Linked DNA regions of Homo sapiens. Each later gene encodes a partner of the first gene's protein in a complex. Each region holds a gene or a part of one and is shown in the gene's direction. Other genes may lie near its edges. The genes, in order: TONSL and MMS22L.

What was found.
Region 2: TONSL (region 1) and MMS22L share a complex: the UniProt entries of both Homo sapiens proteins name them as parts of the MMS22L-TONSL complex.

Annotation. Positions count from the first base shown.
Region 1 is NC_000008.11:144,429,468-144,444,451, reverse strand, and holds the start of TONSL (tonsoku-like protein), read left to right. Parts: upstream 1-11; 5' UTR 12-37; coding exon 38-62; intron 63-176; coding exon 177-272; intron 273-427; coding exon 428-570; intron 571-1,130; coding exon 1,131-1,314; intron 1,315-1,645; coding exon 1,646-1,775; intron 1,776-2,039; coding exon 2,040-2,211; intron 2,212-2,300; coding exon 2,301-2,415; intron 2,416-3,340; coding exon 3,341-3,486; intron 3,487-3,545; coding exon of another isoform or gene 3,546-3,581; coding exon 3,582-3,734; intron 3,735-3,975; coding exon 3,976-4,101; intron 4,102-4,241; coding exon 4,242-4,431; intron 4,432-4,558; exon of another isoform or gene 4,559-4,976; intron 4,977-5,669; exon of another isoform or gene 5,670-5,716; coding exon 5,717-5,799; intron 5,800-5,891; coding exon 5,892-5,981; intron 5,982-6,118; exon of another isoform or gene 6,119-6,224; intron 6,225-6,705; exon of another isoform or gene 6,706-6,753; intron 6,754-7,352; coding exon 7,353-7,425; intron 7,426-7,456; exon of another isoform or gene 7,457-7,531; coding exon 7,532-7,695; and 25 more. UniProt on the Homo sapiens protein: Component of the MMS22L-TONSL complex, a complex that promotes homologous recombination-mediated repair of double-strand breaks (DSBs) at stalled or collapsed replication forks.
Region 2 is NC_000006.12:97,275,008-97,290,683, reverse strand, and holds the start of MMS22L (protein MMS22-like), read left to right. Parts: upstream 1-7,467; 5' UTR 7,468-7,588; exon of another isoform or gene 7,589-7,697; intron 7,698-8,130; 5' UTR 8,131-8,206; coding exon 8,207-8,370; intron 8,371-9,321; coding exon 9,322-9,447; intron 9,448-11,785; coding exon 11,786-11,835; intron 11,836-15,676. UniProt on the Homo sapiens protein: Component of the MMS22L-TONSL complex, a complex that promotes homologous recombination-mediated repair of double-strand breaks (DSBs) at stalled or collapsed replication forks.

The DNA of each region.
Region 1 (14,984 bases):
GCAGCGCGGGAAGTCCGGATCCCGCGGCGATCCGAGCATGAGCCTGGAGCGCGAGCTTCGCCGTAAGTTCCTCGGGGACCCCTTCCTCCGGGGGCGCGGAGGCTGGGGAGGGCTTGGGACTCGGCCCCGGCCCCGGACCCCGCCGCGGAGGCCCAGCCCTCCTCTTCCTCCCACAGAGCTGAGCAAGGCGAAAGCCAAGGCGCAGAGGGCCGGGCAGCGGCGCGAAGAGGCCGCGCTGTGCCACCAGCTGGGGGAGCTCCTGGCCGGCCATGGTGAGCGCCGGGACCAGGAGGCGGGAGGCAGGGCCGGGGCCCGGGCCCGGGCCGGGATCGGGGGCCGGGGGGCGACGGGCTCTTCCGGCAGACGCCGCCCCAGGGCCGCCCTCGCACCCGCGACGCCTGCCAGGCCGTGCTGTGCCCCCGCCTAGGCCGCTACGCCGAGGCTCTGGAGCAGCACTGGCAGGAGCTGCAGCTTCGGGAGCGCGCTGACGACCCTCTGGGCTGTGCCGTGGCCCACCGCAAGATCGGAGAGCGCCTGGCCGAGATGGAGGACTACCCGGCTGCCTTGCAGGTGCGGGCGCCCTCACTGGCCTCGTCCAGCCCGGTCGGCCTCTGGAGCCCTTTTCTGAGGAGGGAGGCCTGGTCTTCGCCGTCAGGAGCCTCGGGCTGGAGGGGACACCTGACCTGACGCAGCCTTGCCTTCACCGCCCCGGGCCAGTCCTCCGGTGGGGACCCCACAGCCTTTCCTGGGACTGGGGCAGGAGTAGGTTTCCTGGCACCAGAAACCATTACTGAACGTTATTTTAGCTGTGTTTGTGTTGGGGGAGGTCAGGCCCCATCCCAAAAGCTCTCCCTGACCCTGGCTGCTGGAGGCAGGACTGCAACCCCCCCGCCAACTCCCAGCTGCCCCTCCCCACGTGACAGCGTTGGCTGCATACAGCGTGAAGCCACTGTCACCACAGAGAGCCCTTGGCATGCAGAGGAGGGGCACGTGTCTGGCCTTGGCCTGCTCTGTGGGGGTTAGGGGGAGCAGGCTCTTTCCTTAGCAAGAACAGGGTCTCTGGGAATCTGGCGGTGCCGGTTTGCTTGAGGCGGAGTCGGCTCACAGCAGTGACTTCCTTCCACACTCAGCACCAGCACCAGTACCTGGAGCTGGCACATTCCCTGCGCAACCACACGGAGCTGCAGAGGGCCTGGGCCACCATCGGCCGCACCCACCTGGACATCTATGACCACTGCCAGTCGAGGGATGCTTTGCTGCAGGCACAGGCTGCCTTTGAGAAGAGCTTGGCTATTGTGGATGAGGAGCTGGAGGGTGGGCAGACCCCTCCGCGTTTTCTGCCTCCTGAACTTCGGGCCGAAGAGGCTGCAGCCCAGCACCCCCGCAGCCTCCTTGGGCAATCCCGTCTTCTGGAGCCCTCCCTTTGCAAGGCTCTTGTGTGAGGGGTGCATGCCCCGCTCAACCTTTCCCCTGGAGATCGTCAGCTCTTTATCCACTCTGTGCTCCATCTGCCGCAGGACACTTGCACCCACCTCGGGAGGAGGGAGGGGGTAGGAGAGGCGCTGCACAGGCCCCAAATGGGGCCCAAAGCTGGAAACCCCATGTGGGGAGGAAGTGGCTGAGTGTTTGGGGGGGTATCTTCCAGGGACACTGGCCCAGGGAGAGCTGAATGAGATGAGGACCCGCCTCTATCTCAACCTGGGCCTCACCTTTGAGAGCCTGCAGCAGACAGCCCTGTGCAACGATTACTTCAGGAAGAGCATCTTCCTTGCGGAGTAAGGCCCTGCCCCGCCCCAGGAGGGAGTGGAGTCCCTTGTTCCTGGAGGAAGTAGTTAGGGGAGTATTTTTCCCAGAGTCCTCCTGAGAGAGCAGTCTGGCTGGGCCTCATCCCCCCACCTCTCACACCTGTGCCACACACTGGGAGAAGGCCAGGCATGGTTAGGGCCCTGAGACCACAGCATGGCAGGGCTGGGGCCCGTGTGGCATCAGCAGCTGTCATGGACACTCCTGGGTGCTCAGTGGTCGTCACCCCTCTGCAGGCAGAACCACCTTTACGAGGACCTATTCCGCGCCCGCTACAACCTGGGCACCATCCACTGGCGCGCGGGCCAGCACTCCCAGGCTATGCGCTGCTTGGAGGGTGCCCGGGAGTGTGCGCACACCATGAGGAAGCGGTTCATGGAGAGCGAGTGCTGCGTGGTTATTGCACAGGTACCCGCTGTGCGTGGCTCCGAGCTCAGGCTCTCGTAGATTCGGGCCTTGGGGATTCTGCAAAACCTTTGCTGTCCTTTGCTCTCCAGGTCCTCCAAGACCTGGGAGACTTTTTGGCTGCCAAGCGAGCCCTGAAGAAGGCCTACAGGCTGGGCTCCCAGAAGCCTGTGCAGAGGGCAGCCATCTGTCAGAACCTCCAGCATGGTGAGCCTGGGGGTGCGAATGGGGCCCTGGGAGGTGTGTGCAGGGGTGAGCCTGGGGGCGGGGTGGAGTCCCGCCAGGTGTGTACAGGGCTCTCTCCCTCACAGAGGAGGCCTGAGCACCTGTCCTTGGAGGCAGCAGCTTCAGCAAGAGGGGCAGGTACCCCTACTTCCTGACAGGAGAAGACCCCCTTTTTTCTCTGAGCTCAACACAGTGTGTCAGGGGCAATGAAAGGGCGGCCAGGAGACCAGCTGGGCTTTTATTTCGCAGCCACCATCTTCATTGGCAAACTGGAGACAGTAGTTGTACCCCTAGCCTCCCAGGGTGGGAGAGGAGATGGCACGCGTGGTCCAGGAGTGCTGATGGCAGAGACCACCATTGGAGGTTGGCAGCCGTCAGCCCTTACTTTGAGCCAGGCACCATCCATGTTGTGTTGTTTTTTTTTCTTGAGACGGAGTCTCGCTCTGTCACCCAGGCTGGAGTGCAGTGGCATGATCTCGGCTCACTGCAAGCTTCGCTTCCCGGGTTCATGCCATTCTCCTGCCTCAGCCTCCCGAGTAGCTGGGACTACAGGTGCCCGCCACCACACCCGGCTGATTTTTTGTATTTTTAGTAGAGACGAGGTTTCACCATGTTAGCCAGGATGGTCTCGATCTCCTGACCTCATGATCTGCCCGCCTCGGCCTCCCAAAGTCCTAGGATTACAGGCGTGAGCCACTGTACCTGGCCCCGAGTTTTTAAGTGTGTTAGTTCTTGTGACCCTTGAGACCAGTCCCCAAGATAGACCCTGCTATTAACCCCCACACCAACAGGCAGGCAGAGGTGTGGAGAGAGTGGGGGGGCCACCACAGGGCTCACAGCTTGCAGGTGGTAGAGCTGGGGTCAGGGCCCCCTGTGCTGCCCCCCTGCATGAACCTCTTCCCGGCAGTGCTGGCAGTGGTCCGGCTGCAGCAACAGCTGGAAGAGGCTGAGGGCAGAGACCCTCAGGGTGCCATGGTCATCTGTGAGCAGCTAGGGGACCTCTTCTCCAAGGCAGGAGACTTTCCCAGGGCAGCTGAGGCTTACCAGAAGCAGGTGTGTGGCCCCGGCTGGGTGGGAGGGAAGGGCCAGTGAGGTTGACGAGGCCTGGCCAGGGTGGCAGCCCCTGGCCTCACTGGCACTGCCCCCAGCTGCGTTTTGCTGAGCTGCTGGACAGACCGGGTGCTGAGCGGGCCATCATCCACGTGTCCCTGGCCACCACACTGGGAGACATGAAGGACCACCATGGGGCCGTGCGCCACTATGAGGAGGAACTGAGGCTGCGCAGCGGCAACGTGCTGGAGGTGAAACCCTTGCTCCCCGCCCGAATGCAGGTTCACCCATGTCTCTGCCTCAGGACTGCCGTTCTCAGGGTGGCCATGGACAGGTGTCCTTACTGGACGGGCAGCTCCTTCCTAGGACCATCCACCCTCGGCAGCTGGGAGGCCGGGCTCCCATTTCGTCTGGGCAGCCGGGGAAGCTTGACTGGGGCCCGTTGGACGCAGACAGCGGCAGCCCCCGACCCTGTCCTTCCTCCTGCTCCAGGAGGCCAAGACCTGGCTGAACATTGCACTGTCCCGCGAGGAGGCCGGCGATGCCTACGAGCTGCTGGCCCCGTGCTTCCAGAAAGCGCTCAGCTGTGCCCAGCAGGCCCAGCGTCCCCAGCTGCAGGTGCGAGAGCCCATCCCACCCATACTGGCTCCCCGGTGAGCCCAGCTTCGTTGCAGCCTGCCTGCCCCTTGTGCCCCATCCCCATCTTTCTCTGCGTCCACAGCCCCCAGTCCTGAGCTGAGCATCCCTCTGCTCCTCAGAGGCAGGTCTTGCAGCATCTCCATACCGTGCAGCTGAGGCTGCAGCCCCAGGAGGCCCCTGAGACCGAAACCAGACTACGGGAGCTCAGTGTAGCTGAAGATGAAGATGAGGAGGAGGAGGCGGAGGAGGCGGCAGCCACAGCGGAGAGCGAAGCCCTGGAGGCCGGCGAGGTGGAGCTCTCAGAGGGCGGTGAGGGCCAGCGGCACCTTGCATTTCCCTGGGCCTGCTCTGGGCCGGGCTGGAGAGGGGTGTGCTGTGCTGCTGTGGAGCCTGCTTAGGGCTGTAGCAGGAACAGCCACAGGCAGGCAGGACGGCCAGTGCTTTCCCGGAACTGGACAGAGAAGGTGGTGACCCGCAGGGAGCCTGGGGCGGCCTTGGCCTCCTGGAGGAGACAGTGGTTGGGAGTCGAGTGAGTGTCAGCTGGGGCATGGTCCCGTTAGAGAGGCACGTGCCATCTGGGGCCAGGGGTGAGACGGTGCACTTTGAAGAGCCCCGGCTGCCTCTGCAAGAGCTGAGCACCTTCCTGAAACCCTTCAGAGCAGGCTTGGGTTTCCTCCAGAGGCTGGCGACATCAGCTGCACGGAGGGCAGGCATGAGGGACTGGCTGGAGCGGGGCTTGGACTGAAGCCATCTTGGCCGTGGTGCAGGGAGAGAGGGCTGAGAGCGGGGTTAGCGGGTAGCTGGGAGGCTGGTTTCTGACTGAGTGGTGGGTGGCAGGAGCCTGTCCATGAGGCCTGTTGGGGGGTGTTCCAGGGAAGGCTGTGACTTCAGCTCTGAACTCGAGGGCGTCGTTAGAACCCTGAGTGGCCAGGCAGCTGTGGGAAGTTGGGGCCTTGCCAGGTTGGTTGCTGGGGGGAGGTGGATCAGGATCTAGAATTTTGGGGAATGCTGCTCAGCTGGTGGGCACAGTGAGGAGCTGCGGAAAGACCCAGAGGCAGCTGGCAGGGTGTGAAGGGCGTGGTGATGAGGGGTCACCCGAAGCAGGGACGGAGGCGGGTGTGTCTGCTGCCTAGGCAGGGTGGAGGCTGCAAGGTGCAGGATACCCAGGCTCCAGGGCTGACCTGGCCTGACGACACAGCTCAGGAGATGGGGGTGGATAAGGCGTGGGGTGGAGGAAGACTGGCCCACGAGCCGGTCTGGGCGTGGGGATGAGTGGCTGGCGCATGGACAGAGGGGGCCTCGGGCAGGCCTTCTGTGGGAGGGCCAGGCGTGGGTTAGGGCAGAAAGCTCAGGGGTGTGTCTCAAGTGGGCAGAGGGATGGTGGGCAGGAGCAGGGTCCCAGCAGGGTCAGGGAGACATGGAGGCAGCGCTGGGACCATTGCTGAGGAGCCCCCAGAGCCCAGCAGCCTCAGAGCTCAGCCCTCCCGTCTCTGGCTCCTTTGTACCTGGGAGTTTGGGGAGCTTGCAGCAGGGTGGGGGCTGCTAACCTTCACCTCCCACGGACTCCCCTGGGGTGGGCTTGGCTCTGTTCCAGAGGACGACACCGATGGCCTGACCCCGCAGCTGGAGGAGGACGAGGAGCTTCAGGGCCACCTGGGCCGGCGGAAGGGGAGCAAGGTGAGGACAGTGCCCTGCCCCCACCCACCCCGCTCAGCAGCCCTGCCAGCTCCTCACGCCCCTGCCCTGTGCTGGGTTGGCTGTGCCCACAGTGGAACCGGCGAAACGACATGGGGGAGACCCTGCTGCACCGAGCCTGCATCGAGGGCCAGCTGCGCCGCGTCCAGGACCTTGTGAGGCAGGTGGGCCCCGCTCTGGGACGTGGGACAGGCTGCCTAGCATGGAGGAGCTGTGCGTTTGTGCCGGATCCCCTATCTCTGTAACTCTCAACTTCCTCATCTTCAAAATGGGGCCCCTTAGCAAGCATGGTGGCACTTGCCTGTGGTCCTAGAGGCAGGAGGATCACTTCATCCTGGGAGGGAGATTGAGGCTGCAGGAGTCGCGATCATGCCACTGCACTCCAGCCTGGGCAACACAGTGAGACCCTGTTTCAAAAAAATTTAAAAAGCGGAGGCTGCACGGGGTGGCTTATGCCTGTAATCCCAGCACTTTGGGATGCCAAGGCAGGCAGATCACATGAGCCCAGGAGTTCGAGACCAGCCTGGGCACCCTGGCAAGACCTTGTCTCCAAGAAATTTAAAAATTAGGTGGATGTGATGGCGTGTGCCTGTAGTCTCAGCTGCTTTGGAGGTTGAGGTGGGAGGGTTGCTTGAGCCTAGGAGGTGGAGGCTGCAGTGAGCCATGATCTTGCCACTGCACTCCAACCTGTGTGACAGAGCAAGACCCTGTCTCAGAAGAAAAGCCACAGGCCGGGTACAGTGGCTTATGTCTATAATCCTAGCACTTTGGGAGGCTGAGGCGGGCGGATTGCCTGAGGTCAGGAGTTTGAGACCAGTCTGGCTAACATGGTGAAACCCTGTCTCTACTAAAAATACAAAAATATTAGCTGGGTATGGTGGCACATACCTGTAGTCCCAGCTACTCGGGAGGCTGAGGCAGGAGAATCGCTTGAACCTGGGAGGCGGAGGTTGCGGTGAGATGAGATTGCGCCGCTGCACTCCAGCCTGGGTGACAGAGCGAGACTCTGTCTCAAAAAAAAACACAAAAAAATGGGGTGCCCAGGCTGGGCGCGGTGGTTCATACCTGTAATCCCAGCACTTTGGGAGGCCAAGGTGGGCAGATCACGAGGTCAGGAGCTTGAGACCAGCCTGGCTGGTCTCAAAAAAAAAATGGGGTACCTGCTGTGTGGTATGCATCTGTGTTACAGCTAAGTTGGTCAGCCTGGCCAGGATGGGGGCTAGCCCATGGGCTGAGATCTGGGCACCTTCCCGCCCCGCCTGCCTCATGCCCCTGCGACCAGGTGCACTGTCTCCCCACAAGGGGACCGGGCAGGCACAGAGGCGGAGGATATGCTGTGGCTGGTCCACCTGTCTCAGGGGGAAGCATGTCCTTCACTGGTGACACCTAGGCCGGAGGAGGAGAGGGCAGGGCCACGGACTTGCTCTGGGCTCTAAGACTGAGGCCCTGGGCTCAGCTTAGGCTGCAGAGCTCACGGGGCTGGGGCCAGGCTGTGAGGTACACAGGGCCAGGCTCCTTCCTGTCCTTGGTCACAGGGCCACCCCCTTAACCCTCGGGACTACTGTGGCTGGACACCTCTGCACGAGGCCTGCAACTACGGGCATCTAGGTGAGCAAGGGACAGAAGGAGCCTGGCGCACCTTGGTGGACACGTGGGGCGAAGAGTCAGTCCTGGCGGGGCATCGGGAGCTGGGCTTACGTCTCCTGGTCTGCAGAAATTGTCCGCTTCCTGCTGGACCACGGGGCCGCAGTGGACGACCCAGGTGGCCAGGGCTGCGAAGGCATCACCCCCCTCCACGATGCCCTCAACTGTGGCCACTTCGAGGTGGCTGAGCTGCTGCTTGAACGGGGGGCGTCCGTCACCCTCCGCACTCGAAAGGTGAGCCTGGTGGGGCAGAGGGCAAGGGCGAGGTTATGGGGGCTGCTGTGCCCCTGCTCAACTGATGCCACACAGGGCCTCAGCCCGCTGGAGACGCTGCAGCAGTGGGTGAAGCTGTACCGCAGGGACCTGGACCTGGAGACGCGGCAGAAGGCCAGGGCCATGGAGATGCTGCTCCAGGCGGCTGCCTCGGGCCAAGGCAAGCAGGGCGTCCCTTGTCCCTGGGGTTGCTGTGCCTACGCTGAGAGTCCCCGGGCCCTGATTTCGGGAGATGCTCCATCACAGGTGGAGCGGGAGGTGCCGGGCCCCTGCCTCAACACGCATTCTCTCTCCCACAGATCCCCACAGCTCCCAGGCCTTCCACACCCCAAGCAGCCTTCTGTTTGACCCCGAGACCTCTCCTCCTTTGAGCCCCTGCCCAGAACCCCCCTCTAATAGCACTAGACTCCCAGAGGCCTCTCAGGCCCATGTCAGGGTCTCCCCAGGGCAGGCGGCACCAGCCATGGCCAGGCCTCGGAGGAGCAGGCATGGGCCAGCCAGCAGCAGCAGCAGCTCAGAAGGCGAGGACAGCGCAGGCCCCGCACGGCCGTCCCAGAAGAGGCCTCGGTGCTCGGCCACAGCACAACGGGTGGCAGCCTGGACGCCTGGCCCCGCCAGCAACAGGGAAGCAGCCACAGCCAGCACCAGCCGGGCAGCCTACCAGGCAGCCATCCGGGGTGTGGGCAGTGCTCAGAGCCGGCTGGGGCCTGGCCCACCGCGGGGCCACAGCAAAGCCCTTGCCCCCCAGGCAGCGCTCATCCCGGAGGAGGAGTGCCTGGCCGGGGACTGGCTGGAGCTGGACATGCCCCTGACCCGCAGCCGCCGGCCCCGCCCCCGGGGCACTGGAGACAACCGCAGGCCCAGTAGTACCTCTGGGTCGGACAGTGAGGAGAGCAGGCCCCGTGCCCGAGCCAAGCAGGTCCGCCTGACCTGCATGCAGAGTTGCAGTGCGCCAGTTAACGCAGGGCCCAGCAGCCTGGCTTCAGAACCTCCAGGGAGCCCCAGCACCCCCAGGGTCTCAGAGCCCAGTGGGGACAGCTCTGCGGCAGGCCAGCCCTTGGTGGGTATGCAGACCTGGAGCAGAGCCCTCTCCCCACTCCGGGCAGGCAGGTGTAGGGTGGAGCCCACTGTGGCTCCTGACTCAGCCCTGCTGCCTTCACCTGCCAGGGTCCGGCCCCGCCCCCTCCCATCCGGGTTCGAGTTCAAGTTCAGGATCATCTCTTCCTCATCCCTGTCCCACACAGGTGAGGCATCGCCTGCCCTACCCCGCAGCCCACCTGTGCAGCTCCATGCCAGGGTGCTCGTGTTTGCATGTCAGGGTGGGGCGTGTGACGAGGGCTCCCTGGTGTGTTCCAGGAGGATCCTGTGGCCCCCAGGAATAGCAGAGGGGCTGGTGGTGTGCTGGGCTGCAGGGAGAGGAGGGGCCGGCTACCTGGGAATGGGAGAAGCAGCTGAGGGGGCTTCTGGCCCTGGGCAGGGATGGCGGGTCCCTGGGGCATTACCCCGGCTGTGTGCAGGCAGCAGCAGCAGCGCCTCTGTCCCTGCAGCAGTGACACCCACTCTGTGGCCTGGCTGGCCGAGCAGGCGGCCCAGCGCTACTACCAGACCTGCGGGCTGCTGCCCAGGCTCACCCTACGGAAAGAGGGGGCCCTGCTGGCCCCACAGGACCTCATCCCTGATGTGCTGCAGAGCAATGACGAGGTGAGCCGCAGAGCGGAGGGGGAGCCAGGGCCTCAGGCACCGGGAGCCCCCGGGTGGCTCATGGCTGCAGAGCAATGATGAGGTGAGCCGGGGGAGCCCCCAGGTGGCTCATGACGGTGCCTTCCAGGTGTTGGCTGAGGTGACTTCGTGGGACCTGCCCCCGTTGACTGACCGCTACCGCAGGGCCTGCCAGAGCCTGGGGCAAGGTGAGGGCCAGGAGAGCTGCAGTTTCTGGGTGAGGTCGTACAAGGGGGTTGGGCACACAGGCTCCACCAGCCCGGTTCATTCCTGGGCCTCGGGTGTTTTGGGGTGCACCTCCCCCAGCCTGGTGGGTGCTGTGTCCTGCACTTGGATGTGTGGGTGGAAGGGAGAGGACAGCCCTCAGCCCCCATGATCTGCTGACAGGGAGATGGCAAAAAGCAGCCGAAAGCCTGGAAAGTCAAACCCAAGGAGGAGGGCCTGGCATGGGCTGGGAGCTGCTGGGGAAGCTTCCCAGAAAGCTTGTCCCGGGGGGTGTGGAATCTGGCAGTGACTGGTGGAGCTCAGGGTGCTGCAGACCCACCCCGGCCCCCAGGGCCTCACAGTGCTAGACCCACAGGCATGTGCGAGTGGGCTCTACAGCAAGTCTGGTGGGTGACCCCTGGGGCTGTTGAAAAGGGGCTGCCTGGTTTGCCCTCTGGGATTCAGAGGGCAGAAAGGGCCGGCCTTACCCTGGTGACATCACATCCCTCCCGCAGGGGAGCACCAACAGGTGCTGCAGGCCGTGGAGCTCCAGGGCTTGGGCCTCTCGTTCAGCGCCTGCTCCCTGGCCCTGGACCAGGCCCAGCTTACACCCCTGCTGCGGGCCCTCAAGCTGCACACAGCACTCCGGGAGCTGCGCCTGGCAGGGAACCGGCTGGGGGACAAGTGTGTGGCTGAGCTGGTGGCTGCCCTGGGCACCATGCCCAGCCTGGCCCTCCTTGACCTCTCCTCCAATCACCTGGGTCCCGAAGGCCTGCGCCAGCTTGCCATGGGGCTCCCAGGCCAAGCCACCTTGCAGGTATAGGCACAGAGAGCAGCAGGCCCTCAACAGCGGGGAGTTGGGGTTCCCATTCTGCAGGTCCCTGGGTGGTCTAGGGTAGTTGGGAGAGCCAGCCAGTGCCCGGCTGTAATAGGCTATGCCAGGCAAGGTGGGGAAGAGACTGCCAAGCCAAGCCCCAAGGGGGACCCTGTCCGTGGGACTGCTGGGGGCTCACTGCCAGCCTGTGTCTTCCACAGAGTTTGGAGGAGCTGGACTTAAGCATGAACCCCCTGGGGGACGGCTGTGGCCAGTCCCTGGCCTCCCTCCTGCACGCCTGCCCCTTACTCAGCACCCTGCGCCTGCAGGCGTGTGGCTTCGGCCCCAGCTTCTTTCTGAGCCACCAGACAGCACTGGGTAGTGCTTTCCAAGGTGAGCTGACCAGGCACTCCCTGTCCACTCCCTAGCCCTGGGGCATTGAGGGTTTCCAGGACTTTCAGAGGGGGCCCAGGCTGGGCACACAGGGGCAACACCTGTGGTCCCAGCTACTTGAGAGGCTGAGGCGGGAGTATCGCTTGAGCCAAGAGTTCCAGGAAAGCCTGGCCCACATAGTGAGACCCCATCCCTTAAGAAAAAAGCGTCTAGGCCGGGCGCAGTGGCTCACGCCTGTAATCCCAGCACTTTGGGAGGCCAAGGCGGGCAGATCACGAGGTCAGGATATCGAGACCATCCTGGCTAACACGGTGAAACGCCGTCTCTATTAAAAATACAATTAGCTGGGCGTGGTGGCCGGTGCCTGTAGTCCCAGCTACGCAGGAGGCTGAGGCAGGAGAATGGCATGAACCCGGGAAGCGGAGCTTGCAGTGAGCCGAGATCGCGCCGTTGCACTCCAGCCTGGGCGACAGAGCAAGACTCCGTGTCAAAAAAACGAAACAAACAACGTCTAGGGGCCTGGGATGCCAGACCTGGCTCTCCGGGAGGGCCTGGCACCTGGGAGCAATAGATGGATGTGTGGGTACAGGGTCTGCCTCCGAGGGGCGTCTGGTGCCCACCCAGCCAGGCTGACCCCCGCAGGACACACCGAGAGCAGAGTCCGGGCAGCTAGTGTCCTGTGGTCCCCATCCCGTGCTCGCCAGCTGAGTGCTGTTCGCCTGAGGCAGTTCCACTGTGAGCCCACTCAGGCTGCAGAGACTGGGGTCCCAGTGCCAAGAGGCTGGGAATTGGGTGTCATCCAGGGGGAGTGTAAGGGGGGCAGCAATGGTCAGTGCACTCCCCTGGCACCCCCACTGTGCAGAGGCATGTGGCCCAGGACCGTGTGGTTGTGGGGTGGGAGAGGGCAAGTTGTCCAGAACTGGGGGCAGCCGAGCTTGGAAGTCTGGCCCCGCCCTCCCAGCTGGGAGAATCTGGGCGAGAGCCTTTGCCTCTGCACTTGCCACCCCACCCTGCGAGCACTGCGGTAGTGGTTTCCCCAAAGGGGTCCTGAGGGTTCTGGGCCCAGAACTTGGGGTGGGTACAGGGCTGTGGCCACGTGGGGCTGACGGATTCTGGCCCCGGTGCAGATGCTGAGCACCTGAAGACCCTGTCCCTGTCCTACAACGCCCTGGGAGCCCCTGCCCTGGCCAGGACCCTGCAGAGCCTGCCCGCCGGCACCCTCCTGCACTTAGAGCTCAGCTCCGTGGCAGCCGGCAAGGGTGATTCGGACCTCATGGAGCCTGTATTCCGATACCTGGCCAAGGTACGAGGTGGGGAAGAACCCAGAAAATACTGAGCCTCAGAGGCCAAAGGTCCCAGGGTTGCTGGGAGGAGCTCGCCTCTCCCCAGATTCGGGCTGAACTCGCTGAGGGGCTCTACAGAGAGAGTTAGAGGTTTGGAGGTTTAGAAAAAACAGCTGGGGGGCCAGGCGCGGTGGCTCACGCCTGTAATCCCAGTACTTTGGGAGGCCGAAGGGGGTGGATCACAAGGTCAGGAGTTCAAAAGCAGCCTGGCCAACATGGTGAAACCTTGTCTCTAGTAAAAATACAAAAATTACCCAGGCGTGGTGGCGGGTACCTGTAATCCCAGCTACTCGGGATGCTGAGGCAGAGAATTGGTTGAACCCGGGAGGCAGAGGTTGCAGTGAGCCTAGATTGCACCATTGCACCCAGCCTGGGTGACAGAGCGAGATTCCGTCTCAAAAAAAAAAAAAAAGAAAGAAAAAGAAAAAAACAGGCTGGGCGTGGTAGCTTACGCCTGTAATCCCAGCACTTTGGGAGGCCGAGGCGGGCGGATCACGAGGTCAGGAGATCAAGACCATCCTGGCTAACATGGTGAAACACCATCTCTACTAAAAAATACAAAAAATTAGCCGGGCGTGGTGACGGGCTCCTGGAGTCCCAGCTACTTGGGAGACAGGCAGGAGAACAGCGTGAACCCGGGAGGCGGAGCTTGCAGTGAGCCGAGATGGCGCCACCGCACTCCACCCTGGGCGACAGAGCGAGACTCTGTCTCAAAAAAAAAACAAAAAAAGAAAAAAACAGCTGGGGGAATGCTTTTGTACAGCTGCCTGTCTCAGGCTGTGAATTCCTGCCCACCAGATAGGACCCGGGACTCAGGGTGATCTTGCCCCCCGCCAGGAAGGTCCCAAGGGGCACACTAGGGCCCCTGATGCTCTCTCCTGGGGGGTCTTCCAGGCACAACTGGGACCCTATTATTTTCACACTATCACGTGCAGAGTGTGACCCACATCAGGAGAGGTGTTTCCTTCCGATCTCCAACTTGATGGGGGACTCTGCTCCCTTCTGGGCCCCTGGGTGTGGTGCACCTGCTGGGAAGCAGGCAGGGCAGGTGCGCCACTCCGTTTGGCCCCCTTGGGCCTCTGCTCATGTCCAGGAAGGCTGTGCTCTAGCCCACCTGACCCTGTCTGCAAACCACCTGGGGGACAAGGCTGTTAGAGACCTGTGCAGGTAACGCCCTTTCCCTGCTGCCTGCTGACCTGGGGGTCTGATCTCATGGCTCTGGACCCTATGGGAGAAGGGCCACAGAAATGGTACCAGCTCCTCCTCCCCAGCACATCCCAAGACCTGGCTCCTTCGGTTTCCACCAGCCTCTCAGGCTGCCCTGGAAGGCAGACTACCCTCTGGCTTCTTTCTTAGCATGGGCCTGTGGCTCTTGAGAGCACTCCTCCGGGGGTGTCCTTGTCATTCCTGTGCCTCGGCCCACATGAGGGCACTGCTCTTATGACCTGGAGCCTCAGTCAGCTCTCTGGGGAGTGTTGAGAGGAGCCCAAGCTGGGCCAGGCACACCCAGAGCTGGCCACTGTGGCCCTGACCCCTGGGAAGGACCCCCAACCCTAGAGGGCCACCTGCTACTGGGCCAGGCTGAGGCAGAGCCCCTGGGTCTGGCCCGAGGCTCCCTGAGCTGGCATTTGTCTGGGCAGCTTTCCTAGTGTTGGGGCACAGCCTCTCTGGAAGCCAACCTTTGCACTTCTTCCCATGTTATCTCAGATGTCTCTCTCTGTGCCCCTCACTCATCTCACTGGATCTGTCTGCCAACCCTGAGATCAGCTGTGCCAGCTTGGAAGAGCTCCTGTCCACCCTCCAAAAGCGGCCCCAAGGCCTTAGCTTCCTTGGCCTGTCAGGTGAGTGCTGGTATGGTGGCCACGCCTGCCATGTTCGGCCTTTTCAGGGACCTGCCTGAGACCCAGGTGCCTCCTCCTAAGGGGCTGTCACTGCTACCAGCCAGGCAGCAAGGCTGGGCTCCATGAGGCTGGGGCAGCAGGGGGCAGAGTGACAGTGACAGAAAAGGGGCATGATCCCAGCTCCTAAAACCATGGGTTAGGGGGCGAGGTGGGTATCTGCCTCTGGTCTCTCCAACCCAACCTTCAGAGCAGACTATGGTAGGCAAGACCCTGTTCCACAGGGACTTTCTTCTTGTCCCTGGCAGGAAAAGGGATCCCAAGGTCAGGGTGTTGAAAGCTGCCAAGGGACCCTCCTACTTCCTGGCAGGGGCTCCTCTGACACAACCCTGCCCAGGGCTGTGGTCTGATTTAGCTTGTTCTCTCTTGAGCCACATCAGGGCAGTCCCCAACCTGAGCTGTCTGGAAGACAACCCCAGGAAGGGCTTTGATGACCTGGCTTGCCCCACTGGGGCCGGGGCAGGCTGTGCCCTCCAGGGGATGAGGGCTTAAGTGAATGTGCACGAAGCGGGGCTCTGCTTTCTTCCTGTGCCCCCTCCCCTTCACCTCCCAGGGCCAGGCCGCCTTTTCCAGGAAGGCCCCCGAGTGCTGGTGTGAGACCCCTTCCCCACACCTCAGTTCCTGGCATCTGTACCTTCCCACCCAGCTCCCTGAATTCCTGAGCTTAGTGTTCTCTTGATCCACTCAGGCCCACGATGTACAGATTTGCAAGCAGATCCATTATGTCCTTCTTATGGGTGGGGAGACTGACGTGTAGGCATGGACTTTGAGATCGGGCACTGTCAGAGGTAAAGAAGGGAGCCACCCTTCCTCCTGTCTGACCGCTGGCTGTGCAGATGATCCCACCCCTTCCTGGAGAGTCATGGGGCCTCTCCGGAG
Region 2 (15,676 bases), on another chromosome or scaffold:
AGGCTGGAGTGCGGTGACCAATTTTGGCTCACTGCAACCTCTGCCTCCCGGTTTCAAGTGATTCTCCAGCCTCAGCCTCCCAAGTAGCTGGGATTACAGGCGAGCACCACTACCACCTGGCTAATTTTTGTATTTTTAATAGAGACAGGGTTTCACTATGTTGGCCAGGCTAGTCTCAAACTCCTGACCTCAGATGATCCACCTGCCTCCGCCATTCAAAATGCTGGGATCACAGGCAAGAACCACCATGCCTGGTTGCTTTATTTTTTTTCAATTTTTTAAATTTTTTCAGAAACAGAGTCTTGCTCTTTCACTCAAGTTGAAGTGCAGTGGTGCAATCATAGCTCACTGAAGCCTCCAACTCCTGGGCTTAAGCAATCATCTTGTTTCTGCCTCTCAAAGTGCTAGGACTATAGGCATGTGCCACCATGCCTAGCTAATTTTTTAAATGTTTTGTAGAGACAGGGTCTTGCTTTGTTCCCCAAGCTGATATTGAACTCTTGGCTTGAAGCAAGCTTTATTGTTTTTTTAAAAGTATGCTATTAGTTATATTAATTATCTATTACTATGTAATAGGTTACGCCAAGACTTAGTGGCTTGAAACAACAAATTATCTCATAGTTTCTCAAGATAACAAAATTTTATTATCTCATCTAGAAATCCGGAGGTGGGCTAACTGAATCCTTTGCTTCAAGGACTTTCACAGGTGCAGTCAAGTTGTCAGTCACCATGGGTGACTGGCAGCAATGTTGCTAAAATAGTTTAGCCAACCGTGAAGTTGGGGGCAGACAGTCCACACTACCACTGCCCTCAATTTTCACTCCAATTATAGGTCCAAGGGGTTCTCAAAACCACCCTAATCTTTGATAATTTGCTAGAGAAATTCACAGAACTTATTGAAAACTATTATATTCACAGTTATGGTTACAAGGAAAGGATACAGATTCAAATCAGCCAAGAGAAGAAACCCATATGAGAAAGTATCAAACTTCTGTTTGGTGAAACTTCTGTTTTCTTTTCCCAGTGGAGTCACGATGTGTTACTTTCCCAGCATCAACGTGTGAAAATATGCACAGAATACGGCCAACTAGGGAAGCTCACCTGAGCCTCAGTGTTCAGAGTTTTTAGTGGGTCCTCATTATGCAGGCATGTTAGAGTGATTACCCACATGGTTGATCTCAGTCTCCAGACTGATATCACGTGACTCAAAGACCCATCCTAAATTACATTTTTGATCTTTCAGCCATGGCCAACTGCCAGCCCAAATCACACTGTTAGATTATCCTGTATGATCCTAGGCCCCAGGCAAAAAAGACACTCTTATCAGACACAACATTCCAGAGGCTTAGAAATTACCTCTCATAAGCCAAGGGCAAAGGCCCAGACTCCTTTTTGGACAAGATTAAATTATTTACTATATATCTCCATGAGCTATCTATTGTATTAGATACAATAGATACAGGCCTAGTCATCTCAAATCTCAACTGCAGAAGAATCTGCTTTCCAAACTCGCTCAGATGATTGTTGGCAGAATTCAGTTCCTTGTGGACTGATGGACTGAGGACCATGGTTCTTCACTACCTATTGTCCAGAGTCTGCTCTCAGTTTTTGCCATGTGGGCCTTTCTAACATGGAAGTTTACTGCATCGAAGTGAACTAATCAAGAAGCTGACAGGGGAAGAATGTTAGTGAGAGAGAGAGTTCTAGCAAGATGTAATCACAGTCTTTTGTAAACTAATTGTGGAAGTGATATCTCATCACTTTTTGCCTTATTCTGGTCAATAGAAGCAAGTCTTTAGGTTCGGCCCACACAAGGGGAGAAGACTGCACAAGGACATGAATACTGGCAGATATTACTGAGAGCAATCTTAGAAGATGTCTATCACAGTAGGCTTTGGGAAAGAAGACAGGAGAGAGGGAGTGGTTGAAGGTTGAAGAAATAGTGGTAATTGAAGGATCAAGCTCCTGGAGGTAAAAGAAAATGGATTAAGAGCACAAGCAGGAGGGAAAGATGATAAAGCTATAGAAAAATGAATGAGGATCAATAATGGAGTTTTTCTTGTATGTAGATTTTTTCAAAGTTCTATGTGGTGTATTCCCTTGTTAATGACTAAGTGCCTTGAACAGTTGTATGAAAAGTCCTTTTCCTTTTATAGGAAAGTTGTTCCTTCTTAACCAACTACATTTCTCTGTTGCTACTGAAGTAGTTGTTTAAATCATAATATGTGTGCCAGGGAGTAGCACTTGAGAGGTTAAGAGTTCATTATCTGTTGCACAAAATTAGTGCATTAAAATACTGTGGGTCAACAGAAAGTCAGCTTACAGTAGGTTGTATAAACATTTACAATAGATAGCTCATGGAGATAACCTAGTATTTTCAATAGCACAGCACAGAACTAAAAGCCATAACTAAGTTGAGCTATCTCAGTGTATCCTCAACAGTGTCCAACTGTAATAATAAGATCATTAGAACTGGAGTTAATATTGGTCAGATATTGCTACAATGTTGAATCCAATTCTAGACTTAACAGCAGTTACTATAAAGTGGTAAGGTGATCCTCATTTACATTTAAGGGATAAGAAGGAACAGTCTTAAACTTTAAATAAGATTTCAATTAAAATCATAAACTTTCTGAAACTGAGACCTTTCAATCAGTGGAATATATCATATTAAGTTGAATTTGTGAAAAGTTTCCCTCCTACAAAACATGACATTCATATTAAATTGTTTGACTTTGAGTCTGATACCTGAAAACACAAGAATACATTATTAAATAGATGGTTTGTGGGTATATTTTTTAAAAAGCAGCAAGTTAGAATGGGTTCATTTATTATACAACATTCAAATTCTATCATATGTCCTCCCTGTTTTTTGTTGTTGTTGTTGTTGGTTTTCTATTTATTTATTTATTTTTGAGATGGAGTCTCGCTCTGTCACCCAGTCTGGAGTGCAGTGGCACGATAATGGCTCACTGCAACCTCTGCCTCCCGGGTTCAAGCAATTCTTCTGCCTCAGCCTCCCGAGTAGCTGGGACTACAGGTGTGTGCCTCCACAACTGGCTAATTTTTGTATTTTTAGAAGAGACAGGGTTTCACCATGTTGGCCAGACTGGTCTTGAACTCCTGACCTCAAGTGATTCACCTGCCTTGGCCTCCCAAAGTGCTGGAATTACAGGAATGAGCCACCGTACCTGGCCTGTCCTGCCCTCTTTTACCAAGTAGCTGAATGGTGCTGGAGAAAATGACAAAACCATGATGACTGAACTCTAATTTTTTGTCACAAATCTCAAATGATAACTCAACACTTCCAGACATTCTTATTATCTTTGCCTAGTAAATATACTTTTCTACTCACCAATATGACAATATTGCACCTCTTCTCTAATTTCTAACAACTACTCTTCCTTCTCACTTCCAGTTGATGTGTCATAGAGAAATAGGTGAAATAAAACAAAAACAACTCAACATTCCAACACGTAGTTCACCACCTCCAGCCATCTTATTCTGTATTTTTAAGATTTACTTTTTTTTTTTACTCTTCCTATTAGGATAAAAATTTTTTCTTGAGCCTATCAGAGGTTGATATGTCATTTGTGTAATGAATACTATCCCCTCTCATCTTTTCAATGCCTTTATTCTTGCAATTATTCCCCTTCTGTTCAGCATCTTTTTTCTTTCCATTTAATAACTGCCATAGCCTCGCAAACATGTTCTAACATCTTTTATCTTGAAAATACCATTTCTTGATCCCTATATGTCCCTCTGTCCTATTTTTATGCTTTATTTTCAATTAAATTCCTGGGTAAAGTTTTGATATTTGCTGATTCACCTCCCATTTTCTATATGACCCACTCCTATCAGATGTTTTTCCCCAACTACTCAACTTAAACAGCTTTTATCAACATTAGTAATGACCTATTTCTTGCCAATACCAATGATTAATCTGTTTTCCTTTATTAGCTTACCCATTCTTTCATAAAATACTTCTCTTGGATTTCATGACAGACATCATACCATACCACACACACTTGATTTTTCTTCTGTGGACTAGCCTTATTTCTTGCTTTTCTTTGCTGGCATTTTCTTGATTACTAGCAAGCTGAATATCTAAAAGTTTTTAAGAGTTTTAGCTTTTACATGTAGGTCTATGATCCTTACTGGGTTAAATTTTATAATATGAGGTAGGTTCATTTTTAAGTGTATCAGTATCCAATAGTTCTCTCACTATTTGTTGAAAAGACTATCCTTTCACCATGGAATTACCTTTGCCAAAAAGCAGCTGATCAAACGTGTATGGGGGCCTGTTACTGGAGTCTCTATTCTTTTCCACTGGCTATGTCTACCCTTAGATCAAAATCATACTGTTTTGATTATTGTAACTTAATGGCAAGTCCTGAAATTAGGTACTGGAATTCTTTCAACACTATTCTTACTCAAAATTGTTTCGGTTAATCTAGGCCCTTTGCATTTCCATATCAGTTTTGGAATGCATTTGTCAATTTCTACAAAAGAAAGTTCTCTGGGATTAGGATTTTGATTGGCAGTCCTTTGAAGCCATAGATAAACTTCAGAAGAACTTTTAATAATATTGAGTCTTCCAATTTATGATTATGCTATCTCATTCTATTTACTTGAATATTCTTGAATTTTTTTCAGCAATATTTTGGAATCCTTGGCAAACAAAATCTGACGCATATTTTGTTAAATTTAAACCTTGTTTATGTCATTAAATGGTGTTGTTTTCTAAACTCTAATTTTCAAATTGTCTTTTCATGTCTATAAAATACAATTAATTTTTGTGTGTCACTGAACCCCGCCACCTTGCTGAACTCATAGTTTTTATATATATTTGTAGAGATTTTTTTAGGATTTTCTATATGAATAATTATGTCATCTGAAAATCAAGACAGTTTTACTTCTTCTTATTCAATCTATATGACATTTATTTCTTCATCTTCCTTATTGCATTGACTAGTTACCTCCAGTAAAATGTTGAGAGAAGTGGAAAAAGTGGACATCATTGCCTTTTTCTCAATCTTAGGAAAAGAACATACATTTTTATAACTAAGTATGATATTAATAGCAGGTTTGTCATAGATATCACATATAAGGTAGGGAGTTTTCTTCCATTCTTAGTTGGCAGAGAGTTTTTATCATGAATAGATGTTGAATTTATCAAGTGATCTTTCAGTGTCTATTGAGATGACAGTTTTTCTTTTTATAGACTTGATATAATGAACTGATTACTTGTAGAAATTTGAATAACCTTGCATTCCTAACATGAATCTAATTTTCTTGTCATATGTCATCCTTTTTGTTTGTTTGTTCTGAGGCGGAGTCTTGTTCTGGAGTACAGTGGCGCGATCTCGGCTCACTGCAACCTCCCCATGCCGGGTTCAAGCGATTCTCCTGCCTCAGCCTCCTGTGTAGCTGGGACTACAGGCACATGGCGCCATACCCGGCTAATTTTTGTATTTTTAGTAGAGACGAGGTTTCACCATGTTGGCCAGGCTGGTCTTGAACTCCTGACCTCAAGTGATCCACCCGCCTTGGTCTCCCAAAGTGCTGGGATTACAGGCGTGAGCCACTGCACCTTGCCATCATATGTCATCCTTTTTATGTACTGCTGGATTTTGCTTGCTAACATTTCTGCTTTTATGTTTGCATGTGATATTGTATTGTAATTGTCTTTTGTCAGGTTTCGATACCAGTGTGGTGCTAGCCTCATAAAACAAGCATCCAATCTCCTAATTTCTCTAAGAGTTAGTATAGAATTGGTATTACTCCTTCCTTAAATGTTTGGGAGAATTTAATAGTAAGGCCATTTGGCCTGGAGAGTGTTTGTTTGTTTTGTTGCTTTTGAGAAATGGTGTTGCTCTGTTGTCCAGGCTGGAGTACAATGGCACACTCACAGTTCACTGCAGCCTCGAACTCTCCAGCTCAAGTGATCCTCTCACCTCAGCCTCCCTAAGTAGTTGGGACTACAGATGAGCACCACCACGCCTGGCTAATATTTGTATTTTTTTTGTGGAGACAAGGGACAGGGTTTCACCATGTTGCCCAGGCTGGTCTGGAACTCCTGGTCTCAAGGGATCCACCTACTTCAGCCTCCCAAAGCCACTGTGCCTGCCCTGGCCTGAAGTTTTCTTGTAAGAAGTGGTGTGTGTGTGTGTGTGTGTGTGTGTGTGTGTGTGTGTGTGCAGAGAGAGAGGAGGGAGGCTTAACCAAAGATTCTGAGTACTACGATAAATACAGAGATACTCAAATTTTCTTCTTTTGTTGATTTTTGACAGTTTGCGTCTTTTAAGGAATTTGTCCATTTCACCTATGCTTATTGGCATAAAAATGTTCATAATGTTCTTTTAATATCCTTGTCCTTTTAATGACTAAATTTCATAGTGATGAAACCTTTTTAATTCCTGATACTGATAATTTGTTTATTTTCTTTATCAGTTTGGGTAGGGGGGTTATCAATTATATTGCTCTTTTAGAAAAACAACTTTTGCATGTATTTCCTTCCATTTATTTCATCCCATTTATTTCTACTATTTATCATTTCATTCATTTTGCTTGCTTTGGTTTCAATATGCTGGGGGTTTTTTCTAGTTACTTAAGACAAAAGTTTATTGAATTGAGTTCTTCTTTTTAATGTAAGCAGGTACTGTTACAAATTTTAGTGTTTTCATTTTAATTTAATTCAACGTATTTTCTAATTTTCCTGTGATTTTTCCTGATTCACAGGTTAGTTAGAAGTATGATTCTTAATTTCCAAATATTTAGAGTATTTCAAGTATCTACTTTATTTCTAGTTTAATGCCATTATGATCAGACTATACACTTTGTACGATTTAAATCTTTTTAAAGTTGATGACATTTGTTTTATGGCTCGGAATATGGTATCGCTTAGTGAATGTTTCATGTGCACTTGACAGGAGTGTGTATTCTGCTATTGTTGGGTTGGTCACCTATAAACGTCAATTAGGTCAAGTTGGTTAGTGCTTTCCAAGTTTTCCATATCCATACTAATTTTCTGTCTACTTGTTCCATCTGTTACAGAGAAAATTAATTGTTGCACTTGCCTGCCTCACAGTCCATGGACAAAAGGCATCTGCATTCTAACAAGAGTTGCTGGCCCCAGAGCGGGAAGAGGGGACGGCGCGACTGTGGGTGTGAACGAGGCACTCACTTCGCACTCACTGGAGTAAATATCTTCTCTTTGGTCCGGCCAGAGGATAAACCCATAGTCCTTAAGTCCTCTCCTCCGCCTCAGCAGCAGTTCTGTTTTTTTTTTTTTACCAGGCCCCGCCTTTCAGCCGAACGCACCAATTAAAGGTACAAAAAAAAAAGTTTCTCAGTACCTCGTCCCGGACTGACGGACTCTCGCGAGAATTCGTGGGGCTCCGACTGTTTCCGCGCAGATATCGCGAGGCGATTGGTAGCCGGGGGAGGGCTGCGCCGTGGCCCCGCCTTTCCGGAGCGCGGGCGCGCGGTGGCGGGAATTTCGCCTGTTTGCGGTTTAGACCCCAAAGATTCCTGTTGGTGGTCTGGGTCACAGGAGGCAGGTTTCGGGAGCTGGAAATGTGAGCGGGTACGACAGGCACCGCGGGTAACCGACGCCCCGGGTCCTTGCTGCAGCCGGGTACGCGGGATACCGGCACCCCGCCTTCTCCGCCCGAGTGCTGCCAGGCGTGGGCCTGGTGGGTCTCGCCTCCTCCTTGGAGGGTCGGGGTTGGCCCTAGGGGTTGCTTTCCTAATTTCCACCCCGAGCCGGGGAGGGAGCGTTCTCCACCCTGCTGCTGGGAAACGGGCGGAGAGTGGTTTAGAAACGTTGCGGAGGGCGCAGTTCTAGGCAAGCCCGGGACGCTATGTCCTGCAGACATTTCTTTGCTTTTCACCTTGTCCTGGGCTGCAGAGCCCGACTTAGTGGCCGGATTTCGAGGTCCCTGCCACAGCCAGTTGGTTGTGCATTTTGTCTTAAGTTCTGACAGCCTTGATGGACGGAGGGCGAGGGGGAATTGGGAATTTGGCCTCTGGGTTTGTTCGTTTGTTTTTCCTTCCTGCTGGCGGACGTCTTGAGAACTTTCTGAAGTAATCCCCACTCTCTCGGCCCCACCCCCCCCCCCCCAACAGGAATCTCTTCACACCTTCTCTTTGGAGCCCTTAATGATACGACGAACCCCAAGTGTTTCAGAACATGAAGTAAACAATGGAGAACTGTTCTGCTGCATCGACGTTCCTGACTGACAGCTTAGAGCTGGAGCTGGGGACGGAATGGTGCAAACCTCCTTACTTTTCTTGTGCTGTTGACAACAGAGGAGGAGGAAAACATTTTTCTGGAGAATCCTACCTCTGCAGCGGAGCCCTTAAGCGGTAGGTAAAACTCAGAGACATTTTCCCTCATCTGATTATTCACCAGTTTTTTAGGAATGTTAGTTATTTCAGCCCATTAAACTTTGGTGTTCACCAAGTCGTGTTTTATAAATCAGCTTAGTATATCATAAGGGTACAAATGATTATCAGTTCTGCTGGCTTCTTGGTAAGGGCATATCTAAAGTATTTGGGGTATTAGGGAAAACTTCCTTGGTAACTGATGTTCCCTTACTGTAGGGAGCTGGGCACTAATTTTTCTTCTACTTAAAATGAATTCCTAACTATCTGAGCCTTTTGCAGTAGTATTTCCTTCTAAAGAGTGTGATAATATTCTAGAGCTTTCCAGTAATATTTAAGAGAGACAAACATTTTTTATTGCCCCTGTTCCTTCTAATCCTACCTGCACATATAGAAGTGTATAGACTTATTTTGCCTTGGGCAGGTACATATATATTACAGTAAAACTGTTCTTGAAATATTTTGGTAATACCTGCTGAGGCAGTTTCAGTGAGGAAACTATTTTTGTTGACCTTATAGTTGTACCTTGTTAGAAATCTTAAATAGAATACTCAACTTCATTAGTTGGATACTATTCTCCAGACATGGCTCAGAATAACTGTTAGCAGTTTTAAAATTAAATGTCCCCTCAAAGGATGAAATTCTACAACTGAAGACTACTGGTGAAGACAGGCAGAAATATGTTTTTTAGAATTCTTGTTGATTTTTCCTCTTAAGTTACATTACACTTTAGTCGTACATTTTATCAATATAGAAGATTGACGTTTTAATACAGTCTAGCTATTGTAATCTTGAATGTGTAAAGTACCAAGGCATTTTCTGACTTTTTATACATGTCATGTATAATATGGATTCAAATAATGTAAAGAAAAGAGCCGTCGTATTATGGTACTTAGTATACTTTTTATGAGATTGAAACAATTTTCATTTCAGATTGATTTTGAATCTTGACCCTTTACCAACTAATTTTGAAGAAGATACCTTGGAAATATTTGGCATTCAGTGGGTTACTGAAACAGCATTAGTGAATTCATCTAGAGAACTCTTTCATTTATTCAGGTATTTCTTCGTTATAACTTTCTGTGAGTGTAGGTGTTGTTCACTTTTGTAAATTACGTTGTTGGGTGGCTTCTAATACTGATATTACAAAAGACCAGAGGAATTGTGCTGGTTGCTCACTTGATTATCTTACCAGTAACAATAATCAAGCAGCAATGCCTGATGAGTAATGGTTTTAATGAGTTGCGTTTTCAGAATCTTTATTCTTTGCATTTGACACATGTATTGACAAATATTTAAGGCTTTGAACTATAATTTTTAGAAGAAAATTAAAATATTTTTGTTGTGCAATAGCCATAGTCTTTCAGTGATCTTTAGAGTATGGTCTTAACAAATAAATTGTTTAGACTGTGTAATAGAAATATTAATTATTTGGACAACATTTAAAATTTTTTTAATGAAAAATTTTAAGCATACACAAAATAATAATATAATGAACATCCATATACCCTCCTTCAGTTGCAGTAAACAACAACTTTTTATTACATTTCCTTCATCTGTCTTGTCTCCTCTTCTTTTGGCCTAAGTATTTGTAAGGAAATCCTAGGCATCATGTCGTTTCACCCATAAATACTTCAGTATGAATTTCTTAAAAATATGTGCTTTTTAAAAACGATGAGGACGGCCAGGCGCGGTGGCTCATGCTTGTAATCCCAGCACTTTGGGAGGCCGAGGCGGGAGTTCGAGACCAGCCTGACCAACATGGTGAAGCCCCTTCTGTACTAAAAATACAAAAATTAGCCAGGCGTGATGGCATGCGTCTGTAATCCCAGCTACTCAGGAGGCTGAGGCAGGAGAACTGCTTGAACCCAGGAGGCGGAGGTTGCAGTGATTTGAGATTGCCCACTGTACTCCAGCCTGGGTGACAGAGCGAGACTCTGTCTCAAAAAAAAAACTCATCTCAATTAATAAAAATTAAAGTTCTTCATTATCATTTAAGACACAGTTCATATTCAGATTTTAGGTAATTTTAAACAGGAGTCAGTTATTGAAAGCTAATTATTCCAAAACACAGTAAAAATCTATATGTGATACATTTAAAGGAAAATGGAGAGGTGGAAGGAATTCTCTCACCATCATCCCATGAAACCTTTTGAAGAGACTTAAACTGTATCTACGCCATGTCATACGTTTTATTGATAGAACAGGCTCAGTGAGTGATCCTCTGTAATCCTGAAGATTACAGAATGAGCGAGTCTTTATCTAGGACATAGGTTATAAATATGGGTTAATTTTTAAAGACTTTGAAATCAACTAGGAAGAATAGCAAGAAATTGCTATCAGGAATTAAGATGGAACATGATAAATAACAGCTTTCCCTGATACTTTAGTCTACATTATTCCTTTTTTGAACTTCTATTGTATAACTGTATGATACAGTTTAAAATTTTATTATGTAACTGTTAACCTAGAATGTTTTATGTATCTTAAACTTCTTTTTTTTTTTTTTTGAGAGGGTGTCTCACACTGTCACCCTGGCTGGAGTGCAGTGGGGTGATCTTGGCTCACTGCAACTTCCGCCTCCCGAGTTTAAGCGCTTCTTTGCCTCAGCTTCCCGAGTAGCTCGGATTACAGGGTCCCCCCACCACGCCCGGCTAATTTTTGTGTATTTTTAGTAGAGATGGGGTCTCACCATGCTGGCCAGGCTGGTCTTGAATTCCTGACCTCAGGTGTTCCACCTGCCTTGGCCTCCCAAAGTGCTAGGATTACAGGCGGGAGCCACTGCACCCCATCTTAAACTTCTTTTTTTTTTGAGACGAAGTCTTGCTCTGTTGCCCAGGCTGGAGTGCAGTGGTGCGATCTCTGCTTACTGCAAGCTCCAGCTCCTGGGTTCACACCATTCTCCTGCCTCAGCCTCCCGAGTAGCTGGGACTACAGGCGTCCGCCACCATGCCGGGCTAATTTTTTCGTATTTTTAGTAGAGACGGGGTTTCACCATGTTTGCCAGGATGGTCACGATCTCCTGACCTCGTAATCCGCCCGCCTCGGCCTCCCAAAGTGCTGGGATTACAGGCAAGAGCCACCACACCCGGCCGTAAACTTAAAGATATAAACAGTATCTTGCTGATGGTGAAGGCTATGGTATTTGAAATAATTTTTGAGATATATGCAGTCTTTAATAGATAATTTTGGAAGGTCAGGCAAAGATGTATTTTATCTTTTCTTAAAGTTTTCATTACCTGAAGCTGATCCTTTAATTAACATTCACAAGGTATTAATCATCATCCCCAAATTAAAGAGGTATTGAAGCTGTGTAATTTGGAAACATTGTCCACGTAATTGTTACATGCTTTAAAGTGTTCTAAAATTAACTCTCACCTTACATTTTTAAAATTAGGCAACAACTGTACAACTTGGAAACCTTGTTACAGTCCAGTTGTGATTTTGGTAAGTTTAAGGTGTGTTTAATGCAAAAGGGAATGGTGCTTCATTATAGTGAGTTGCACATGGGTCCATGATGGTATAATTGGCATATCATGATAATACAGAGGAAGCATTAGGCCAGAAGTTTACGAATTTAGTGTTCAGAAAAGTATGACTTTTTAAATTTTGTTGTAGCTGAGATATATAGTATTTTCCCAAATCTGTAGATTTTAAAGGTAAAACCGACTTAAGCTAAAATTCTCTGAAGAGAATTAGTACTTGTTTTGGAGGTAGGGAGTGGGATAGAGAACTTAAATGAGAACTAAACAGTGCCAGACCTCATGCTGTCTTCTTGATTTTCTTTTCTGCTTTCTGCTTTTGTGTTTGCTTTTGGTGTGTGATGGATTACTGATTTTTTTTTCTTTTGTTTAGATTGGTATAGTTGGTTTTTTTTTGCTTTTTTTTTTTTTGATAGGGAGTTCTGCTCTTTTGTCCAGGCTGGAGTGCAAAGGTGCCATCTCAGCTCACTGTAACCTCTGCCCCCCGGGTTCAAGTGATTCTCCTGCCTCAGCCTCCCGAGTAGCTGGGATTATAGGCACCTGCCACCACCCCCAGCTAATTTTTATATTTTTAGTAGAGATGGGATTTTGCCATTTTGGCCAGGCTGATCGCAAACTCCTGACCTCAAGTGATCCCCTGCCTTGGCCTCCTGAAGTGCTAGGATTACAGGCATGAGCCACCGCATGTATAGCTAAGGTAATAAAGGGAATTGAAGGGCAGTGTGTTTTAGTGCAGTCTGGCTGCTTCTCCTTTCTAGTAATTTTGGTGCAGTGCAGTGTTTAGAATCATGGCCTTGTCACCCTGGCTTCCAACCCTAGCTAATTGTGGGTCTTACGTCAAGTAATAGTTCTAACTTTGTTGAGCGTGTTAAGTGCTTAACACAGTGTCTACCATTATTGATGCCTAGCAACCAAAGACTACCTGGAACACTTTTGGTCAAACAGAGGTTTATTAGATTATGAAAAAAGGAAAAATACACATTACAAGGAAAAGCTGGGGCTTGTCAGTAAGAGGGAGTAGGAAGGGACTTGTGATATGTTTGGGGCTCATTCTGGTGATTTTCCGTAGGGCTTAAGGGGGATAAGGCTATATTCTGGATTGGATGCTGTTAATTAGCAGGGGCAATTTGAAGAGTGGGTATTTTAATTTTTATCTAGGAGGTGAGACAAACAAAGGGAGCATCCTAATTAGTAAAAAAGTATTGTCCTGGTCACTGGAAGAGGGAGGATGTGTTTTTTTGTTCATTTTGTGTGTGTGTGTGTGTTTTGTTTGGAGTGTGTGTGATTGCATAGTGCCATGTTTTGTATTCAGACATGGTTACAGAGGTTTTGTTTTTGTCTTGTTTCACTGTAATGGAGTGGCCCTGTATCATTATTATTTATTATTATTATTATTTTTTGAGATGGAGTCTCGCTCTGTCACCCAGGCTGGAGTGCAGTGGCATGATTTTGGCCCACTGCAACCTCCAGCCCCCTGGGTTCAAGCAATTCTCCTGCCTCAGCCTCCTGAGTAGCTGGGATTACAGGCGCACACCACCACACCTGGATAATTTTTGTATTTTTGGTGGAGATGGGGTTTCACCATGTTGGTCAGGCTGGTGTCGAACTCCTGACCTTGTGATCCACCCACCTCGGCCTCCCAAAGCGCTGGGATTACAGGCGTGAGCCACCGTGCCTGGACTATTTTTTATGTTTTATGAAAATTGTTTATTTTCAGTAGGGGATACCATGGCCTAGCTGTTAGCTATCAGCTTTTAGGCTGTTTTATATTTTTTGTTTTCTTAATATGTTACGTGATTTGTAAATGTTAAGTATTATTGTTTCATTATCATCTGATGGGTCCCTGGTTCATGCCAGGTACTTTGCAAGGTACTGACGAATCAAAGAGGAAAAATATGCTGCTGATGAGTTTGCAGTTGTGTAGACAGCTAGACATGCAAGCATACATCAGCTTGGTAAATGAAAAGGTACGGTGATAAAGGAATGTACAAGCTGCTGTGGAAGCCAAGGGCTTTGTCTATCTGTGAGCTCCTCACTAAATGATGCCAGATCTGGGTCTTCACAGATGGGAAGAAATTAGCTAGGCAAAAGATTTGGGAAAAGTTTTTCGGACAGGAAGAATTCCAGGCAGAAAAAAATAAAACTGTATAAACAAAGACGTGATGTGTGTAAAAACATAAAAGTTTAGAGAGCATGGATTAAATATTAATTACATATGGTTGGATCAGAATGTGTGTGAGTGATGAATTTGGAAGGGATAAAAGCAGAGTTGGCTTTGTAAACCATGACAGAGAGTATGATTTTTATTTTGGAACTCCTGTGGAGCCACTAAAAGATTATAGTGGAAAGAACCAAAATACCTTTACCTTTACGTAGAATAACTTAAGTAAATTGGGTTCATGGAAGGCATTTATTATGATAGATTATTATTATTACACTTATTAACCTGAAACCACTGCAGTGGACTATTTGTTAAGATGGTTGTTTGTTACACTGACATTTTGGCTGTTTTTGTTGCTTAAAAAAGCTTTTAATGACAGATTTTGGACAAGTTAGTGGTGTTAAATATTATCCATACATGAACATGTCCCTGCCATGTAGCTGTGTTCATTAACTTGTGTAGCTACCCTTGGACCTCAGCTGTGCCAAGAAGTCCCTATGTAGTTACTTACTGCCAGATGAGTATAGTTCTTGTTCTAGCCATTATGCTTCCAGGGTTAATTTCCAGTTGAGGCAGAATAACATACTTAATGACATGTTTTGCTGACAGCTGTTTTTTTTCTCTCTTTCCGTCTCTTTGTCTCTGTCTCAAGACAGGGTCTCACTCCATCGCCCAGGCTGGAGTGCAGTGGTGCGATCATGACTCACTTCAGCCTTGACCTCCTGGGCTCAAGCAGATCCTCCCATCTCAGCTTCCCAAGTAGCTGAGACTACAGGCTCACGCCATCATGCCTGACTAAAATTAATTTTTTGTAGAGATAAGGTCTCACTATGTTGCCAAGACTGGTCTCAAACTTCTGGGCTCAAGTGATCCTCCCGCCTTGGCCTCCTAAAGTGCTAGCATTATAGGTATCACCCACCACACTCAGCCAAGAGCTATTCTTAAATATAATTGTTGGTGTTACCCTGTCTCAGCTATTGTGTGTGTGTTTTTTTTCTCTAGACATTCCTTATGGATTTTTTAAAATGTCTTCTGTTTCTGACTTCATGCTTGTTTTCATCCATCTTGAATATATGGAGTATACATTATAACCACTGTTGTTGCTGCTATTAATAATTCTTCTTTTTGAGAGGGCATCTTGCTCTGTCACCAGGCTGGAGTGCAGTGGCGCCATCTCGGCTTACTGCAACCTCTGACTCCCTGGTTCAAGCAATTTTCCTGCCTCAGCCTCCCGAGTAGCTGGGATTACAGGCACACGCCACCATGCCTAGCTAATTTTTGTATTTTTAGTAGAGACAGGGTTTCATCATGTTGGCCAGGATGATCTTGATCTCCTGACCTCGTGATTCGCCTGCCTCAGCCTCCCAAAGTGCTGGGATTACAGGCGTGAGCCACCATGCCCGGCCAATAATTCTTTTATCACTGTCATTTCTGAAACTATTTGTATTGATTAGTTTTTCTCCTGATTCTGTGATATATTTTTCTGCTTCTTTGAATATATAGTAATGTTTTATTGTTAGATGAACATTGTGGGTTTCACATTGTTGCTTTCTGGATTTTTATTCCTTAAACTAGATGTTGAATTTTGTTATGGGTCGCTATTGTGTAGTTGTAATCCACTGGTTCTTCTTGAGGCTTGTTTTAA